Regions from separate parts of the Homo sapiens genome. Here region 1 is linked to region 2. Evidence: fine-mapped expression QTL. A gene starts in region 2. The other region holds a variant in brackets. All regions are shown on one strand. Distances are from middle to middle. Region 1 overlaps IQUB (IQ motif and ubiquitin domain containing). Region 2 holds the start of NDUFA5 (NADH:ubiquinone oxidoreductase subunit A5).

Region 1 (9,436 bases), 85 kb after region 2:
TGCCATTGCTTTTGGTGTTTTAGACATGAAGTCCTTGCCCATGCCTATGTCCTGAATGGTATTGCCTAGGTTTTCTCCTAGGGTTTTTATGGTTTTAGGTCTAACGTTTAAGTCTTTAATCCATCTTGAATTAATTTTTGTATAAGGTGTGTAAGGAAGGGATCCAGTTTCAGCTTTCTCCATATGGCTAGCCAGTTTTCCCAGCACCATTTATTAAATAGGGAATCCTTTCCCCATTTCTTGTTTTTGTCAGGTTTGTCAAAGATCAGATAGTTGTGGATGTGTCGTGTTATTTCTGAGGCCTCTGTTTTGTTCCATTGGTCTATCTCTCTGTTTTGATACCAGTACCATGCTGTTTTGGTTACTGTAGCCTTGTAGTATAGTTTGAAGTCAGGTAGCATAATGCCTCCAGCTTTGTTCTCTTTGCTTAGGATTGTCTTGGTAATGCGGGCTCTCTTTTGCTTCCACATGAACTTTAAAGTAGTTTTTTTCCAATTCTGTGAAGAAAGTCATTGGTAGCTTGATGGGGATGGCATTGAATCGATAAATTACCTTGGGTAGTATGGCCATTTTCATGATATTGATTCTTCCTATCCATGAGCATGGCATGTTCTTCCATTTGTTTGTGTCCTCTTTTATTTCATTGAGCAGTGGTTTGTAGTTCTCCTTGAAGAGGTCCTTTACATCCCTTGTAAGTTGGATTCCTAATACCTCCTTAATTCTTTACTTCTTCCTTTCCAAACCCACTACCATTGCCTGTAGGGAAAAAGCTCTGCCCTGGTGTCCTGATGACTCTGCATATATCAAATAGGCCTTCCTATCTCCCCTGGGAGGATGTCATGAGACAGGTCTTGCCTTATCTTGTATGCATGAGCTCGACCCTGACATAATTGAATCTGGATTTTCTTCTCATCTGGATTTCTTTATGTTTCCAAATTGAGCTGCTGCCTCCAGTTTCACGTCTCAATTCTCTCCTCCATTATCTATATCACTGCCAAAGTGGCCTCACTAAACACAACTCTGACCCTGTCCTTCCTCACTGCCCTTAGGGAACAAGGATTTTCATGTTTGCAAACCTCACTTATCTCACTGTTGTATCACTGCCATCTCTCCCTGAATACTATACCCACACTGCTTCAGCCATGCTTGATTACTTGCATATCCCAGAAAGACCAGGTGCTCTCGATCCTTTTGCATTGGGTGCCTTTACATGGAACATCCTTTCCTTCCTTCCTCAGTAGCTAGCTATTGACCCTGAAACAAGCTCAGATGCCTCTTCTTCCAGAAAGCAAATGCTGGTCCACCTACTCTAGCCTGTAGTATATGCTCTCATGAGACTGTCTCATCTCTGTCTTTGTACATAGTATGCAATCTTTATTGTACCTACATGCCTGAATTCTTTCCAGATTTTGAACCTTTAAAGGAAAGAGTTGTCATTTATCTCTGTATCCTCATATCTTAGCACAGTTCTTACCACAGTGTCAATAAATGTTTGTGGAAGAAGGTAGGGAGGAAGAATAAGGGACAGAAATAGTGGTTGTATAATTTTGTATTCCAAGTATCATCAAGAAATTATGTAATGTAGATACTGTCATTTTAAATGCTTAAATATATTAATTCTAGGAAAGATGAATTTACTGTAGGAAAGCTATAATATTCATACTTCTCTGGAGTCATCTTTTGAAATAAACCTATTTGTTTAGCAAATTGCTTTACCTTGCATCCTGCTTCATCACTGGGATACTTAATTGTTAACCTCACCAGAGAAGAGAGTATGGGCCCAGGGCAACACAAATATTCAAAGGAGCTGGAAGCCTCTGAGTGTCCATGGACAGGGAAGATGGGTGTCACCTTTCTTTATTTGATGCTGAGCCTTCTGTAGAATTTTCCCACTAGTGCCATCATACTGTTTTCTATTTCCTGCAAACTATTTAAAATTCTATTGTTGTATATACTTACACAATATCTATTCTTCTTTATGCCCAGAACATTCCCTACCCCAGTCCCCATGTCTAGCATTGTCTGTAAACATTTAACTAAACTTCTTGAAATTATGGAGTATCCATAAATGGATCAAGGCCCAACATATGAAAGTGATTCCAGAGTCAGTTGATGACCACTACCCTTTCTCATGAGGTGTGGCACTCTAAGATGGTCTTCATGTAAATCTCACCAAAAAAAAAAAAAAAAAAAAAGTGAAATGGAGAAATTTTAAAATTCTGTTTACCAGAATTCCTAGGAGGAAGGAAGATCTATTTTTTTGTGTTTGTTTTTTTGTAAATACTTTGATAAGCTGTTGGGGTGGAATTTGAGACTCTGAAGGATCCTGAGTACAGAAAGAATTGTTCTGTTCCAGGAAAATGGAAGTTTTCAAGAGTTGTTCTAGAGGGAACTAGATAAGGTAAAGTGAGGAGAGAATTGGAAGGCAGTGGGTGTACAGTGTGACTTTTTGTGACTTCTTTAGTTATGTGACTAAATAAAGGAAATATTAAACGCAACATAATTTTATTTTTGGAAAGGGAGAGGAAACCAGATAAATAAGCTGGGCTCCATGTCCAGATGGATACAGGGTAACACACAAAGGTGAAAGGCAGAGAATTGAGGGAAGGATGAAGTTAGCCACAAGAATTTGTAGAAATCAAGGCAGAGGTGTTTTGTGGGTCACATGTTTTAGAATTGGAGTTCTAAACCCACAGTTACCCCAGCTGATAAACCAGTTAATCTCATCAATCTCCAGGCTAAATTTTAAAGGAAATTGACATTTTAGTTGATACAATGGGACTTTCCTTCAGTTTTGACTAAAGACTTGTATTAGGACAGGAAGAACACACCACAATATGGATCAGCTACACTTGACGATAACTCCCAGTCAGTGCACATAGCCTAATTAGTCCAGTGTTTAAAAATGTTGACTAACAGTGACTTCTGGCCTGCTTTTAGCCTGCTATAGTGAATTAAAAACTCACTGTTACTCTAATTCAGAATCATTTAAATCACCTTTTTGTATATGATTCTATACTAAGAAGACGATTAAGATAAATTTTAGTCTTTTGATGTGAATACTTATAAAATGTCTGTTTTTCTCTATGCTTGTCAACCTCCCCCACCCCCAAGCCTAGTATTATCTCTAATATTCAGGAGGAGTCAGTGTTGATTTCATAAAACTTGAATGAAGTAACTTATTATTCTAAAGTTTTTGATTTTTAAGAAAAGATAGCTTATAATTAATCCCTGCAAGTAGACAAGGTCAGAGTTTTTTCAGATGTCAAAATTAACAAACAACCAGTGCCATATGTGAATTTGAAGATCTTCATTTAACACCACAATATACAGATACATCCAGAGAAACATTTACTTTCCTTTAATTTGGAAATAACTTTGGAGAATACAATTTTATATTTTAGTTTCAGTTTCACTTTTTTGAGTCCAAATACTGTGTGGTTTATTGAAACAATATTTTATTTTTAATCCTTTTTTCCTGAACATAGAATGTCTCTGAATAATGAATTATACAGTCTTAAATTTGTCCAGTCAAAGCATTGAACTAATAGATTATAATAGGCTCTATACTAAGTCCTCATTCTTAATAAAAGGCTAACTCTAAAGATTTTTAAAGCATTAAATAATTAGTAATTTTAAGTCACCAAATATTGACTTCCACAGAGTATCAAATATTAAAAACTTGGCTGGGCATGGTGGCTCACGCCTGTAATCCCAGCACTTTGGGAGGCCAACGCAGGTGGATCGCGAGGTCAGGAGTTTGAGACCAGCCTGACCAACATGGTAAAACCATGTCTCTACTAAAAATACAAAAAAAAAAAAAAAATTAGCCGGGCATTGTGGCGGGTGCCTGTAATCCCAGCTACTCGGGAGGCTGAGGCAGGAGAATCACTTGAACCCGGGAGGTGGAAGCTGCAGTGAGCCGAGATTGCACCATTGCACTCCAGCCTGGGCAACAGAGTGAGACTCCATCAGAAAAACAAAAAACAAAAAACAAAAAAACAAAAGAACTCACAAAGCTTGACAGAGGTGAAGAAATTCAGGTCAAGAAGTTTGAATCAAAAATCATCAGCTGGTTTCTAATATATCTTTGGGTTTATTTACCCAAACTCTGTAGAGACCATTTGAATTTCTGTAAGATGTTTTTCCTTGAGTCAAGGCCATTTATTTATTTGATGCCTGTTGATTTGTACACTATTCACAATTGCAGGCTTAAAGAACTGCAATCCATGTTAGCTGTGTCTTTTAAATGCTTTTTCTCCATACCCAGGTAGCTAACAGTTAATGGGGCAGGAAAGTGCCATGGCCTCTTTCTGAACTCTGCATGAAATAAGAGTGCTGCTATGGCTGAGCAAAACCCCTGTGCTGTGTAAAAGAAAGGTTGATCACTATATAGTAGCTTCTGCGGGGAGTTAGGGCTATTCTTAATTTGTGTCCTTAGGGGCTTGATAATTAATTTAAGAGGAAGAAAATATCTACTTTCCTAGTGCAGTCATTTCTTCTTTTTTGTGGAAGCCTGCTGCTCTCCAGGTTCTTGTTATTTCTCCACCTTCCTTTCCCTGAAATGTGTCTTCCTGCTGTTCTTCTGTTTCTCTCTTCCAGGGTCTGTGCTGTCTCTTTTGTTGGCAGCTAAATGGAATTTATTATGCTCCTATTTTCTGAAGCAATTTAAGTACATGATTGTTGTATATCTGTTATCACAGCCAAAGCTTTCAAAGAAAAAAGGAAATAAGGAAGAGAAATAAGCAAAGTTGACATTTTTCCTGCGTCAGAGTTAAAAACACCTTAAGCCCTGAAATCAAAAAAGCCTAGGCTTGAAGATCAAGTTATCTGTGTTGGCAGAAATACATCTAAGTATAAAAACAGCTTTGCTGAACAGATTTTTTAATATCTTTTCAGTGCCAGCTCTAGGGAACTTGAACTTCAAATCTAGGATTCTTTGATTGTATCACTCGGTTCCCTTTAATCTGGCTAACTCCTAGTTATTCTTCAGATTTCATCTTAGATACTTTCTTTTTACCAGTTAAGTGCTTCATAGCAACCCATAGTTACCTATTTATCTACAGTCATCAAGCGTACTCATCTTTTTTTCTAATTACTCATTTTCTTACCCTTCCATCCCATGAGATTTGAGAGTTCTTGAAACCAGGATAGTATTTTATCTACTCAGTGCCTAATACATTGATTAATGTATAGTAAACACAGTAAATATTTGTTGAATGAATGAAAGAGTATTGTAGACACTGTGAGATATATAGAACTACATGAGAAATTTCTTTCTCTTTCTTTCTTTATTTCTTTCCTTTTCTTTTCTTTTTTCTTTTTTTTTTTGAGTTGGGGTCTTGCACTGTTGCCCAGGCTGGAGTGCAGTGGTGCAGACTTGGTGCACTGCAACTTCCACCTCCTGGGTTGAAGCAATTCTCCTGCCTCAGCCTCACAAGTAGCTGGGATTACAGGTGAGTGCCACCGCACTCAGCTAAATTTTGTGTTTTTAGTAGAGATGAGTTATCACCGTGTTGGCCAGGCTGTTCTCGAACTTCTGACCTCAAGTAATCTGCCCGCCTTGGCCTCCCAAAGTGCTGAAATTACAGGTGTGAGCCACCGTGTCCGGCCGAGAAATTTATTTCTCATACTCTTTTGGGAGAAATGGAGTTAGCAAACATAAAACAATTATAAAGTAATTTGGATCCAAATTTCATTGCCTGTAGTCACTGAAATAGAGACATTGTATACTTGTGTGTTTTTACAAGTGCAATAGGATTTCACATACAAGTGATATAATTGTTTCAAACTATAGTAGTTAGAGGAATCTTTATGGAAGAGGTAGGGTTTGAGTTCAAAATGGAAAGGTGGAAAGGACTTAGATGAAGAATGTATTTGGAAACCAAGATCTAACCACATTATGCTATATTTGTTAGGCTAAAAACTTGGGGGGG[A/GGA]AAACAGAGTTAAATCAGTCTATCAACTGAAAAATACAATGTGATAGGTAAAGTAGGTGTTTCATAAAAAGGTTATTGTATTTGAATTATTACAAATGAAATAATTTACCACCATGCAGATCAAAAGGTGTTGTCCAAATTACTGGAAGAAAAGCAATTGCATTTAATACAGCAAACCTGAGGAAAATTGTATGCAAAGATTAAGACATTGGTTAGACTTTAGAATATTACAGCATGAAACTTAGCCCTAGCCTTTAAAAACTTTTTAAAAAGAGCTTTAAAATAAGCATCAAACTTCAGTAACACTCTGAGGCCTACCCAAAATAAGGCTATATGCATTTAAAAATTATTTTATTCCTAAGTGATGAGAATTGAATGATAAAATATTTTATTATTGAGCTATTTTCCTTATAAGCTTTTAATCAATCTTAATTATATCGGTCTGATAATAATACATTATTTAATATTGAATTTATGCTGTAACAATTTAAATTAATTATAGGGCTGCAGCTTCTCATTTACTGGATTGAAACTGGAGCTGAGAATCTAAAGTTTCTGATGAAGATTCCTACCTCTGAATAACATTCATTTTGGCTTTGATCTGAATATGATGCCATTACTTTGAGAATATATCAAATATAGTTGTTTTTAAGAGGTAGCTTTGCAGTTCTCAATGTGATTTAGCTAATGTGAAATATAAAAAATTAGTTGTAAATTGATGTTACAACTAAAATTCCCTCCTGATACTGTCATTGTTTTTTTCTTTTTTCTTTTTTTTTTTTGAGACAGAGTCTTGCTCTGTCACCCAGGCTGGAGTGCAGTGGCGCGATCTCGGCTCACTGCAAGCTCCGCCTCCCAGGTTCATGCCATTCTCCTGCCTCAGCCTCCCGAGTAGCTGGGACTACAGGTGTCCGTCACCACGCCCGGCTAATTTTTTGTAGTTTTAGTAGAGACGGGGTTTCACCGTGTTAGCCAGGATGGTCTCGATCTCCTGACCTCGTGATCTGCCCGCCTCGGCCTCCCAAAGTGGCTGGGATTACAGGCGTGAGCCACTGCACCCAGCCTACTGTCATTCTAAATACAGTTTTATATAATGTCTCTATTTGGTTAGTCCATATTCCTGATGATCTGTTCCAATACATAGAGCTTCCATTTAAACCTTACATTAGATCACATCTAAGATTTAAATGTTTGCAAGTATGGTGTAAATTGTATTACAAGGACACCAGAGCAATTACAGTTAACCTACAAAAACATCCAACATGTTTTTGAAGAATTGTCATGATCAACATAGTCTTGTTTCTGAAAAATTATCATTAGGGAAAGAAACTGAGCAGCTTTGTACCCTAAAGTGGAAGAGCTAATAGACAGTAAGTGTTCACTGTGAAATTTCTGGGTGAATGCATCTCCTCTAAATGTCCCTGTCAGAGGGAACAGAAGCAGTGGCAAACACAGAGGTATCATCATTAAAGATTATCCTGTTTCCTGAGTCGGTAGAGGACTAATTTCACCTCCTGTCTCTAATCTCTGAATTCTTAGCCTGGGAGTCCTCAGATGAGCTTCAGGGCAAGTGAACTTCATTTTTGGCCCTTCATTTAGGAGGTGGGCTAGGTTGGGAGGCACCAAGCCAGATTTGGAAATAGGAAGTGAGAATCTTAGCCAGCATCAGGGAGGCAGGAACCACAGCCCAGCACAGTTAAGATAGCAATATAGCTCTTTCACTATGGACATCTGCTTTGAGAAGAATTTTGAACTTCTTATAGAAGTATTTTTATAGGACATTAAACCATAACTCACAGAGTCCCTTTTTGGTATATCTTTAGGTCTAAATATATTGAGGATTGTCATAATTACTCTACAAAAGTTATATTCAATTGGCAAGGCAGGATCAAGACATATTTATATACACTCAATATAATTGAACCAAGCAAATAATTGTCCTCATGGGGTTAATGAGTAATTCCATACATCTCTCAAACAATTCAACATAAAAAACTAGTAGCAAATCCTGAATATTGTAGAAGTGTATGAACTTCTACAGACTGAATAACTGTCATTCTTATTTGTTTTTTTCTAAAATATTTTACTTTTGCCTGATCTGCAAATTCTTAAATTAATTTTCATAAGCTTTAGCAATACTTTAGTTATAAAGCACATGATATTAAGGTAGACTTTTAGTAGAAGGAGCAAAATTGTTATACGTAGTTTCTAATTAACTGATAATTATAAACATAATATTATTTTTAAGTGTTCAGCTCCAAAAATATGGAGAACCCCTAATGGCAAAACAATTGAGATGGATACGCAGTTCACCATCAGAGCCAGAGAGCTGCAAAATATCTATAAGTGCATTATGCTGAAAAATATCTCCCAAGATGAGAGGCTGGATGTGCTGTTAACTCTTAAACACACTGTAAAGGTATGTTAACTTTCTCTTAGTTTGGGGGTAGAGTTCACTGTCAATAAAAAAAAATTAATGAAATACTAAAACAAGTAAAGTGTTTTACATTAAGAATTGTTTTGGTATAATTTGGGAAGGATGTGGTTTATGCATTAATATTTACCTAAAAGTTCTCAAAATATAATACATAATAAATGTAAATATAATGAATGTAAATATATCTTTATGCAATGAATGCAAATATATGCAGTATAGCATGAGATTAGTAATTACATAAACAGCAATTATAATCTACATATTTTGACATTTTTCAGTGAAAAATTGATTTTTAGCAGTTTTAAAGCAGCACCATTGTATTTTTATCTTTTTTCTCATCAATTATTGATTTTCTGTGTTCTTAATCCTACTTTTAATGAAAACAAAGTTAGTGGATGTCACAGATCAAATTTTCCCAAGAAACAAGAAACAAACTCAGAGATGGGGTTTATATTCAGGAAGTTTGTTGGAGAGTGCTATCAGGATAATTCCTGTGAGGCAGTAGAGAAATCAGAATCGGGAGGATAGAGAAATTAAATTGTGGTGGATTCTGAACAATGACTTCAGCCAGTGTCACGGGGAATTCTAAAACTGGAAAGGCCATCCAGAGTTGTCCTGAATTTAGGCAAGGGGCCAGGACAATTTTGACCACGTATTGGATGGGCTGCCCCAGAAGGGCATAGCTTTGGATGAGATAACTTTCTTTAATAGAGAGCAATTCTCAGGAAGAGCCTCGCTTGAGAGTTGTCAGCCACCAATCTGCCAGGATGGGGAGAATACACACGCTGCTGCCTGGATCCACTTCATGTTGTAGGTTTCAGGATTAGCTCCTCTGGATTTAGATAGGCCCCAAAGCAAGGTTAAGAAAAACTGCAGCCCCTAGTGTAGTCATTGGCTTTAAGGCCACAAGAGATACTCACTGTTTCCTTCCTCTACTATCTATTTTAGATTTCCTTCTCCCTGAACTAGCATCTTGACTGGTCCAGGTGACCCACTTTTTGGAGTGACTTGCATCTTGAGAGGTCTGAACCACAGGTCACTATGCTTTTCTCAGTCTGAGGCT
Region 2 (9,436 bases):
CATCCTGAAAATCCTAGGACCCTGAAGAATGATGCTAAATCTAGTCTGCCTGTGTTCTATAAATGGAACAACAAAGTCTGGGCTAAGAAAAAAGAAGATTTCTTTCAAAATATTACTGCTCATTGAAAATGTACCTGGTCACTCAAGAGCCCTGAGGATGAAGATGTACAAAGAGATTAACATTGTTTTCACGCACAACATGCTGCAGTCATCATTCTGCAGTCCACGAGTCAAGGAGTAATGTCCACTTTCAAGTCTTATTTAAAAAAATACATTTTATAAGGCTATAGTTACCATAAATACCGATTCCTCTGACAGATCTGGGTAACATAAATTGAAAACCTTCTTGAAAGAACTGACCACACTAGATGCTATTAAAAAGATTTGGTGATTCATGGGCCAGGTGCGGTGGCCACGCTTGTAATCCTAGCACTTTGGAAGGCTGAGGTGGGTGGATCATGAGGTCAGGAGTTCAAGACCAGCCCGGCCAAGACGGTGAAACCCCGTCTCTACTAAGAATACAAAAATTAGCCGGGTGCGGTGGCAGATGCCTGTAATTCCAGCTACTCGGGAGGCTGAGGCAGGAGAATTGCTTGAACTGGGGCAGCAGAGGTTGCAGTGAGCCAAGATCATGCCACTGCACTCCAGCCTGGGCAATAGAGACTCTGTCTCAAAAAAAAAATTGGTGATTCATGCAAGGAGGTCAAAATATCAATATTAACAGGAGTTTAGCAAAAGTTGATTCCAACTCACATGGATGACTTTGAGGGGTTGAAGATCAGTGGAAAAAGCCATTGCAAATGTGAGGAAAACAGCAAGAGAACCAGAATTAGAAGTAGAGCTTGAAGATGTGACTGAACTGCTGCAATCTCATGATAAAACTTGATCAGATGATGAGTTGCTTCTTGAATGAACAAAGAAAGTGGTTTCTTGAGATGGAATCTACTCCTGGTGAAGATACTGTGAATATTGTTTAAATGACAACAAAGTCTTTATAATATTTTATAAATTTGGTTGATAAAGCAGCAGCAGAATTGAGAGGACTGATTCCAATTTTGAGAGTTCTTCTGTGAGACAAGTGTTATCAAACAGTGCCTTCTGCTACTGACAAATCTTTTGTGAAAAATTTCTGCAAAAAGGAAGCTGGGATTTTGATAGGAATTGTGATGAAACGCTACATCAACTTGAGTATTGCCATCTGACCAATATTGACTTCAAATCATTAAATAAGAAATGTCTATTTATTTAGATCTTTAGTATTTCCAACAATATTTAATACTTTTCAGTGTACAAGTGTTACACTTATTTTGTTAGATTTATTTCTTTTTGATGCTATGGTAAATAGAATTGTTTTCTTAATTTATTTTCAGATTATTCATTGCTATAATAGACTAGAGCATATTTTTGTATATTGATTGCTATGGACTATGTCCCCCAGATTTCATATATTACAGCTCTAAACCTCAATAAAATGGTATTTGGAGATGGAATCTTTGGGAGATAATTAGGTTTAGATGAGGTCATGATGGTAACAGTGGCCTTATAAAAAGGGACACCAGAGATCTTGCTCTCCACCCTGACCCAACCCCAAGCACACACGAAAAGAGGTAAATATGAGCATACCATGAGAGGGTAACCAGTATAAGCCAAAAGAAAAAGCCTCAGAATGAAATCTGTCTTGCTGGCTTTGGTCTTAAACTTATCAGCCTTCAGAACTGTGAGAAATACATTTCTGTTGTTTAAGCCACCTCATCCATAGTATTTTGTTATGGCAGCCTGAGCTGACCCTGATAGATCACGTATAATGTAACTTTGCTGAAGTTATTTGTTTTAATTGTATGTATGTGTGTATTCCTTAATAATCCTATATAAAAGATTATGCAACTGTGAATAGAGATAGTTTTACTTTTTCCTGTCTCTTCTGGATGACTTTTATTCATTTTATTTTCTTGCCTAATTCCCTTAGCTAATATTTCCAATATATTGTTGGATAGAAGTGGTGAGAGTGGAAAAATATTTGTCTTGTGAATGATCTTAGCAGAAAAGAATTGCCTTTCACTCTTAAGTATGATGTTGTGGGGTTTTTCTAAGCATCTTTATCAGGTTGAAAAATTTCTCTTCTTTTCCCAGCTTGTTGTGTGCTTTTATCATGAAAGCATGTTGAAATTTGTCCAATGCTTTTTCTGCATCTATTAAAATTATCATATAGTTTTTGTCCTGTATTCAATGGTACATTAGATTAATTGATTTGGGGATGTTAAACCAACTTTGTATTTTTGAAATAAATATCATTTATTTGTGGTGTATAATTTTTTTTTCATATGCTACTGAATTTGGTTTGCTAGTACTTTTCTGAGTATTTTGTGTTTATTAATAAGGGATATTGGCCTGAAGTTTTATTTTCTTTTTTCTTTCCTTTTTTTTTTTTTTTTTTGTGAGACGGAATCTTGCTCTGTCACCCAGGCTAGAGTGCAATGGCCCAATCTTGGCTCACTGCAACCTCTGCCTCCTGAGTTTGAGTGATTCTCCTGTCTCAGCCTCCAGAGTAGCTGAGATTACAGGCACACACCACAAGGCCTGGCTAATTTTTGTATTTTTAGTAGAGAGAAGGTTTTGTCATGTTGGCCAGGCTGTCTCAAACCCTTGACCTCAGGTGATCCTCCTGCCTCAGCTTCCCAAAGTGCTGGGATTACAGGCATGAGCCACCAGGCCCAGCCGAAGTTTTCTTTTCTTGTTGATTTCTTTGTCTGGTTGGAATCAGAGTCCACACCTGGCTGAAGTTTTTGTTTCTTGTTGATTTCTTTGTCTGGTTGGAATCAGAGTAATACTTGCCTTATAGAATTAGTTGTTAATTGTTTCCTCCTCTTCTATATTTTGGAATAGTTTCTTAAGTGTTATTCTTTAATTGTTCAGTGGAATTTACCAGCGAAGCCATCTGGACCTGTGCTTTTCCTTCTGGATAGGTTTTTTTTTTTTTCTTGCTAATTCAATTTCTTTAATTATGTTAGATCTAGTCAGATTTTTCTTTATGCCTTCTTGAGTTGATTTAGGTAGTTTGTGTTTTTCTAGGAATCTGGCCATTTTATCTACTTTATCTTTTTTAAGCATAGTTGTTCATAGTATTCCTTCTTATTCCTGTTTATTTCAGCAAGGCTATTAGTGATGGTTCTTTTATTCTTGCTTGTATTAAATCTTCTCTCTTTTTTTTCTTAGTTTCACTAAAGGTTTGCCAATTTTGTTGATCCTTTTAGGGAACCAATTCCTGGTTTCATTGATTTTCTTTATTGATATTCTGTCTCCTTCTTTTCTAATCTTTAATATTTCCTTTCTTCTGTTTGCTTTTGGTTTAGCTTTCATTTTTTCTAGTCTCATGCCTCTAATGAAAGGCCTCATCTCTTCCAACTCATTCTCTTCAACTGTTGCCTAAGTTGTTTGTATATCTGAAACATAAATTTGATGGTGTCACTTAGAAGCTTAAAAGTCTTCTCATTGTTCCCATTCCTTAAAAAGTAAAATTCAAATTTTGTATAATGGCAAACAACACCTTTCATAATCTTAACCAGTTTACCTTAACAATCAAACCCACCTTTCCAATCACATAAAATCACCTGGAATTTATATATACATTTTTAACCTCTTTTCCTTTGTACTTGTGTTTTCTCAATTTGTTCTTTTCTCCTACTGACTTTTTAGAAAGTCACCCACGCTTTTTAGTTATTTCCTTTTCCCTGGTACCATCACACTTTGCATCAACTTCTTTTAGAACAGTTACCAAATTATTTATTAATACACGCCTTCTTCATTATTCTTTGAATTCCAGGATGTGAAATCCCATTTTAGAAATTATGTCCCAGTAACTGACACATAGTGAGTGGTCAGTGTTTGTGGAGGTAGGAAAAAGTGGTATGGTCTGATATCATTTCATCTGGAAATAAGATGATGTATTTCAGCCAGTGAAATCGAAAAGAGCGATGGAAAATGACCTCACACTCCATAGGGCTTTGGTTCGTAAGACACAGAGAATACTGATATCCTTGTGCGAAGAACTAACTTGCTGTTGAGAGATCAATTCAGAGGATGCTCAAGCTCCGTTATCACTTTCATTTTACTAAACTGAGAAAGGAAGGTTGAGGAATGCATCAACGGTTAAGCACAGTGCAGGTTCCTACAGCGACTGGAGTTTTTTGGTAGTTGGGAGTGTTTCCCTCAATCTTTGGGCAAGCCGTCAGCAGTGGCAGGAACAGGAACAGACAGCTGGGAAACCCTTTCTTTCCCCAATCGTCTTCTAGCTTAGCTTTAGGCTTGTATGCCCATCGCGCATGCGTCAATTTTTCTCTTTTAAGATGGGCGGGGCAGAGTCTTTGCTCCTTTGGCGATCCTGAAGGGGTGGAGCTAAGCTGTTTCCAGGGTGACAGAGTGGCGACCTCGGTGGTCGATTGAGCAGGTCTGAGAATTGTTCCCAAAGGGTTGTGCGTCACCGAGTCGTTGGCGCTGTCATGGCGGGTGTGCTGAAGAAGGTGAGACGAATGGAGGTCACTGTTGGAATTTAGACTGTGGGGGTAGACTCAGTCCGATAGCCCTACTTCCCGCGGGTGTTGACCCCTACTGTCGCGGGCTCGGCGGTGCTTTTCGGGGACTCGTTCTGCATGCCTTACCGGGTAGGGCAGGTTAGTGGTTCCGCTCCGAGAGTCAGGAAAAAAGCTCCAAACAAGCGAGACTGAGAGACCAGTAGCTGGCTTTAGACCAGTTTTAGCCGGGGGATTCGTGGTTTTGTATTTCCTTAGCGTGCTGGATGTATGGAAACCGTAGTAAACAGCATGAATCGTGTTTTGTTTTTGAACAGACCACTGGCCTTGTGGGATTGGCTGTGTGCAATACTCCTCACGAGGTATGTACCTTTGTTCTTTCTTCGTTCTTGAATTCCCAAGGAAGACTAAATTCCTGTCACTTTGCTTATTGCAGGGTTAACGGGATACAGATGTTTCAAGCCCTTAATTACAAGCCGCGTGAGCTCTTGAGACACGGGCGCTGTCCACCTACTTCGTTGATCCGATGTCACATTTTTATTTATTTTTGCCATGACCTCTTTATTAAGCCAGTTTTCTTGTTGACTTTTTCCTTGACATTTTCATGGCTTCACTTGTGCTTGCTTCTGTCAGCGCCATCTCAAATTTATATCTCCGTTTTCCATCTTTTCTCCTTGCCTTACCGTTTCTGCTTAGGTGCGTTGGATTACATATATTTAGGCTTACTAAAGGTACTGCCCCCTTTTCCTTCTGTTAGGTCTTTTCCATCTGTATTCACGAATGTTTTCATCAAAAAAACCCACAAAATTTTTTTATTCTTCTTGTCCCTTCTATAATCACACCATTTCTTTGCTTCACTTTACAGATAACTCAAAAGAGTTATCTCTATTTTCTCCAATTTCTTTCTTATTCACCCTTGAATGCACTCAGTCACCCTTGGCGTTTTTCAAGTTCACCAATTATCTCCATGCTGCCAAATCCAATGGTCAGCTCATATTTCTCACCTTCATTGACCTAATAGCAGCGTTTTTTGACACATTTGACACTTTTTCCATCACGCTCTTTTCAAGTTCACCAGTTATCTCCATGTTGCCAAATCCAATGGTCAGCTTATGTTTCTCACCTTCATTGACCTAATAGCAGCGTTTTTTTTTTTTTGACACATTTGACACTTTTTCCATCATGCGCTTTCTTTACTGGGCTTCAGGACTCCCCCAGTCTCCTGATTTTTTCCCCCTACTCTTTGGCTTTCTCTTTTTCTGGTTATTTCTCTTATGCCCACTTTTAAAATTTGAGTTAGTCAGGATTTAGTTCTTGGACCTTTTCTTTTGGACCTGTACTCTGTCACCAAGAGAGAGCAAATCCAAATAGAGAACGGTTTTAAATACCACCTATACACTGACAACAGATTTCCATGTAAAGCACTGACCTCTTCCTTTATAAAAGTCCTGAATATTTAATTGCTTAGTGGGCATCTCTATTTGTATGTGTCAGACAGGCAACCCAAACTTAACATGTCCAAAATGGGGTTCCTGATCTTCTGCCTAAAACCTGCTCTTCTCTCAGTCTTGCTCATCTCAATTAATGGCAGCTCAATTATTTTGACTCAGGTCAGAAACTTGAAATCATCTTTGATTCCTTCCTTTCTCTTACACTCCACATTTGTTATTTCAGTAAACCCTCTAGGTTCCACCTTCAAAATATATCTTGATTTTGACAACATCTCACTACCTCCTCTGCTACTACCCTCTTCCTCAGTCACCATCATCACTGATGTGGATAATTGCATTCACTTCTTAACTGCCTCTCAATGCTTGTCACAGCCTCCATTTGGTCTTTTTTTCCAGCCAGGCTACTAGAGTTAGTCTGTTAAAATATGAGGTAGGTCAGATCTCTCCTTTCCTTAAAACTAATGGCTTTCCATTTCACTCTAAATAAAGACAAGTTTCTTACTGTGACCCTCTGGTTCACTATTCTACTGATTTATTTTGTTATGTCTCTACTAGAATGTAGGTTTCATGAAGGCAGGGATTTGTAATTGTTTCACTGCTAGAACTCTGTCACATAGTATGTGCTCAGTAAATAGTGTTAGTTGAATGAGTGTCTTGCACTTCCTATGATTTCATAATAACTTTATTGTCATTGATGTAAAGAACTGAACTCATGGTTTTTCCCTTCTAAATATATTTCTTCCTCTGTGGGCTGTATTTTTCTTGATAGTTTCAGATCTTTCTACTCCCTAGGCTGGGAATTTGGACATCATAGTTGGTATTTCTCTTATACTTGTACTCTCATATTCATTCCAATGATGATTTTTATTTTTATTTTTTTTGCTGATCCTTTTCTATAACAGCTCTCCAGTCTGACTTCTGTTTACTATTTCTATTGTTACTACCATAGTTCAGGTCCTTGTTCTTGTTTAGAGAATTGCAACAACCTCCTTACTGGCCTTTCTGCCTTGTTTCTCCTTCAGTCCTTTTAACTCACTACAATGAAGCTAATTTTCCTAATCTAATCATATGATTTTCCTAAATCTTTTAATTGTCCACAGAATAAAGCCCGAATGCTTTAACTTGGAATGCAGAACCACTTATAATGTGACATTTTCTCTAACTTTATCTCCTATGCATTTCCTTATGTGTCCTGTACAGCAGTATATTCCAAAATCCCCAGTGGATGTCTGAAAACCACATATAGTACCAAACTGTATATATGCTATGTTTTGTTTCATACATACCTATAATAAAGTTTAATTTATGAATTAGGCACAATAAGAGATAAGCAGGCTGGACGTGCTGGCTCACGCCTGTAATCCCAGCACTTTGGGAGGCTGAGGCGGGTGGATTGCTTTAGCCCAGGAGTTTAAGACCAGCCTGGCCAACATGGCAAAACCCCGTCTCTACAAAAAATGTGGAAATTAATCAGGTGTGGTGGTGTGCACCTAGTCCCAGCTACTCGGGAGGCAGAGGCAGCAGGATTGCTTGAGCCCCAGAGGTTGAGGCTGCAGTGAGCTGTGATGATGCCATTACACTCTAGCCTGGGTGATGGAGTGAGACCCTGTCTCAAAAAAGAAAAAAAAAAAAAAGAGATAACAACTAATAAAATAGAACAATTATAACAATATACTGTAATAAAAGTTATGTGAATGTGGTCTCTTTGTCTCAAAATATCTTACTGTACTGTACCACCCTCTTGTGATGAAGAAAGGATAGAGTGGGATAGTGTGAGATTTCACCACACTACTTTGAACGGCACATAGTTTAAAACTTATAAATTGTTTATTTCTGGAATTTTTCATTTAATATTTTCTGACTGAGGTTGACTATTAGTAACTGAAACCTTGGAAAATGAAACCACGGATGGGTAAAGGGGAGCTACTGTATTCTAACCAAGTGCTGGCCATTAAAAACATAATGCGAGCCTTAAATGTAAGCCATATTTGTATGTAATTTAAAATTTTCTAGGACTAATTTTTTAATGAAGAAAAAGGTAAAATTTAATTATTTTATTTACCCTAACAAATCTAAAATATTGCCATTTCAGTATATAATAAAAAAATTAATGGTATTTTATAGTGTTTTTCTTCATACTAAATTTTCCAACTCTGGTATGTATTTATACTTATAACACATCTCAGTTTGGACTAGCCACATATCAAATGCTCAGTAGCCATATTTAGCTAGCATCTACTGTTTTAGACAGCACAGTTCAAGAAAATAGAACTATATACCACTTCCTTATGTTTGCTGTATTTTCTGCCATTCAGTTCTATGTATTCTGTATGTAATTGCCTTTTCCAATATCATTTAAGTTTCTATGATCTACCATCCCTCTGGGTCTATCTTAGATGCCACCTTTTTGAAATATGAATGCTTCTCTGGTCTCAGCTGAAGTGAATTCTTCTTCTGCTATAGAAAAATAATGCTAATACTTAGTGAAACTTAATGTGTACCAGGTACTGTTCTAAGTTGTATATACCCTATGAGGCAGTATTATTCCCATCTTACAGATGAGGGATGAAGGCACAGAGATGGAAATAACTTGTCCAGTGCACCTAAGGAGTGGAGCCAGTGTAAACTCAAGCAGTTATGTTCTGGTTAGCACACCCTTAACCGTTGCTAAGTATTATAATATCTCTTTGCTCTATGTATTTCCCCATCCCTGCCAAACACACACTTATTTTTTCTTTTTATCATTTTTATTATTTTTCCTCTTCTGTAGCTTACCCTGTGATATGGTTTAGCTCTGTCCCCATCCAAATCTCATCTTGAATTGTAGCTCCCATAATCCCCATGTGTCGTGGGAGAGGAACCTGGTGGGAGGTAATTGAATCATGGGGTGGGTTTTTCCCATGCTGTTCTTGTGATAGTGAAGAAGTCTCGTGAGATCTGATGGTTTTATAAAGGGCAGGTCCCCTGCACATGCTCTCTTGCTTCCTGCCATGTAAGACAAGCCTTTGCCCCTCTTTCATCTTCTGCCATGATTGTGAGGCCTCTCCAGCCATGTGGAACTGTAAGTTCATTAAACTTCTTTTCCTTTATAAATCACCCAGTCTCAGGTATGTCTCTATTAGCAGCATGAGAACAGATAAGTACACTCGATAGTACCTTAAACATATTGGAGTGTGATCCATGTCCAGTCTATCTTTATACGCAAACAGTGTGGTATTGTACATGGAAGTACTGAGTATATTTTTTCGCGGGTAGCGACTGTCTGGGGCTGGTGTTGCGTGGTGGTAAAAATAATTTACCAAGACATTTGAGGTAAAGAAAGGCAGATTTATTAGAGAAAGTATGAAAATACATTGCAAGAAAGCTATTGGCAAGTCAGCAAAAGAGGAGCTGAATGCAAGTAGCAAAGGCTTGCTGGGGATCTTAAAGGATGGTGCTTGTGCTGTGGGCTGAAGAGAG

Evidence for each region. PIP is the estimated chance that this variant, and not a neighbour inherited with it, causes the effect.
Region 1: its variant is the best candidate, but not a certain one, in a credible set for the expression of NDUFA5 in gastroesophageal junction (GTEx, PIP 0.63).

Annotation. Positions count from the first base shown.
Region 1 is chr7:123,468,133-123,477,568 of GRCh38, reverse strand. It overlaps IQUB (IQ motif and ubiquitin domain containing), which reads left to right. Exons shown (of 13, transcript NM_178827.5): 9 at 8,185-8,355. Among named protein-coding and RNA genes, the nearest start is that of IQUB, 62 kb to the left of the region's middle. The variant A/GGA (reference allele first, on the strand shown) is at 5,937.
Region 2 is chr7:123,552,856-123,562,291 of GRCh38, reverse strand. It overlaps NDUFA5 (NADH:ubiquinone oxidoreductase subunit A5), which reads left to right and starts at 4,474. Exons shown (of 5, transcript NM_005000.5): 1 at 4,474-4,517; 2 at 4,844-4,888. The coding sequence starts at 4,497. RefSeq lists enhancers at 3,997-4,136, 4,397-4,446, 4,187-4,765, 4,002-5,201, 4,766-5,344.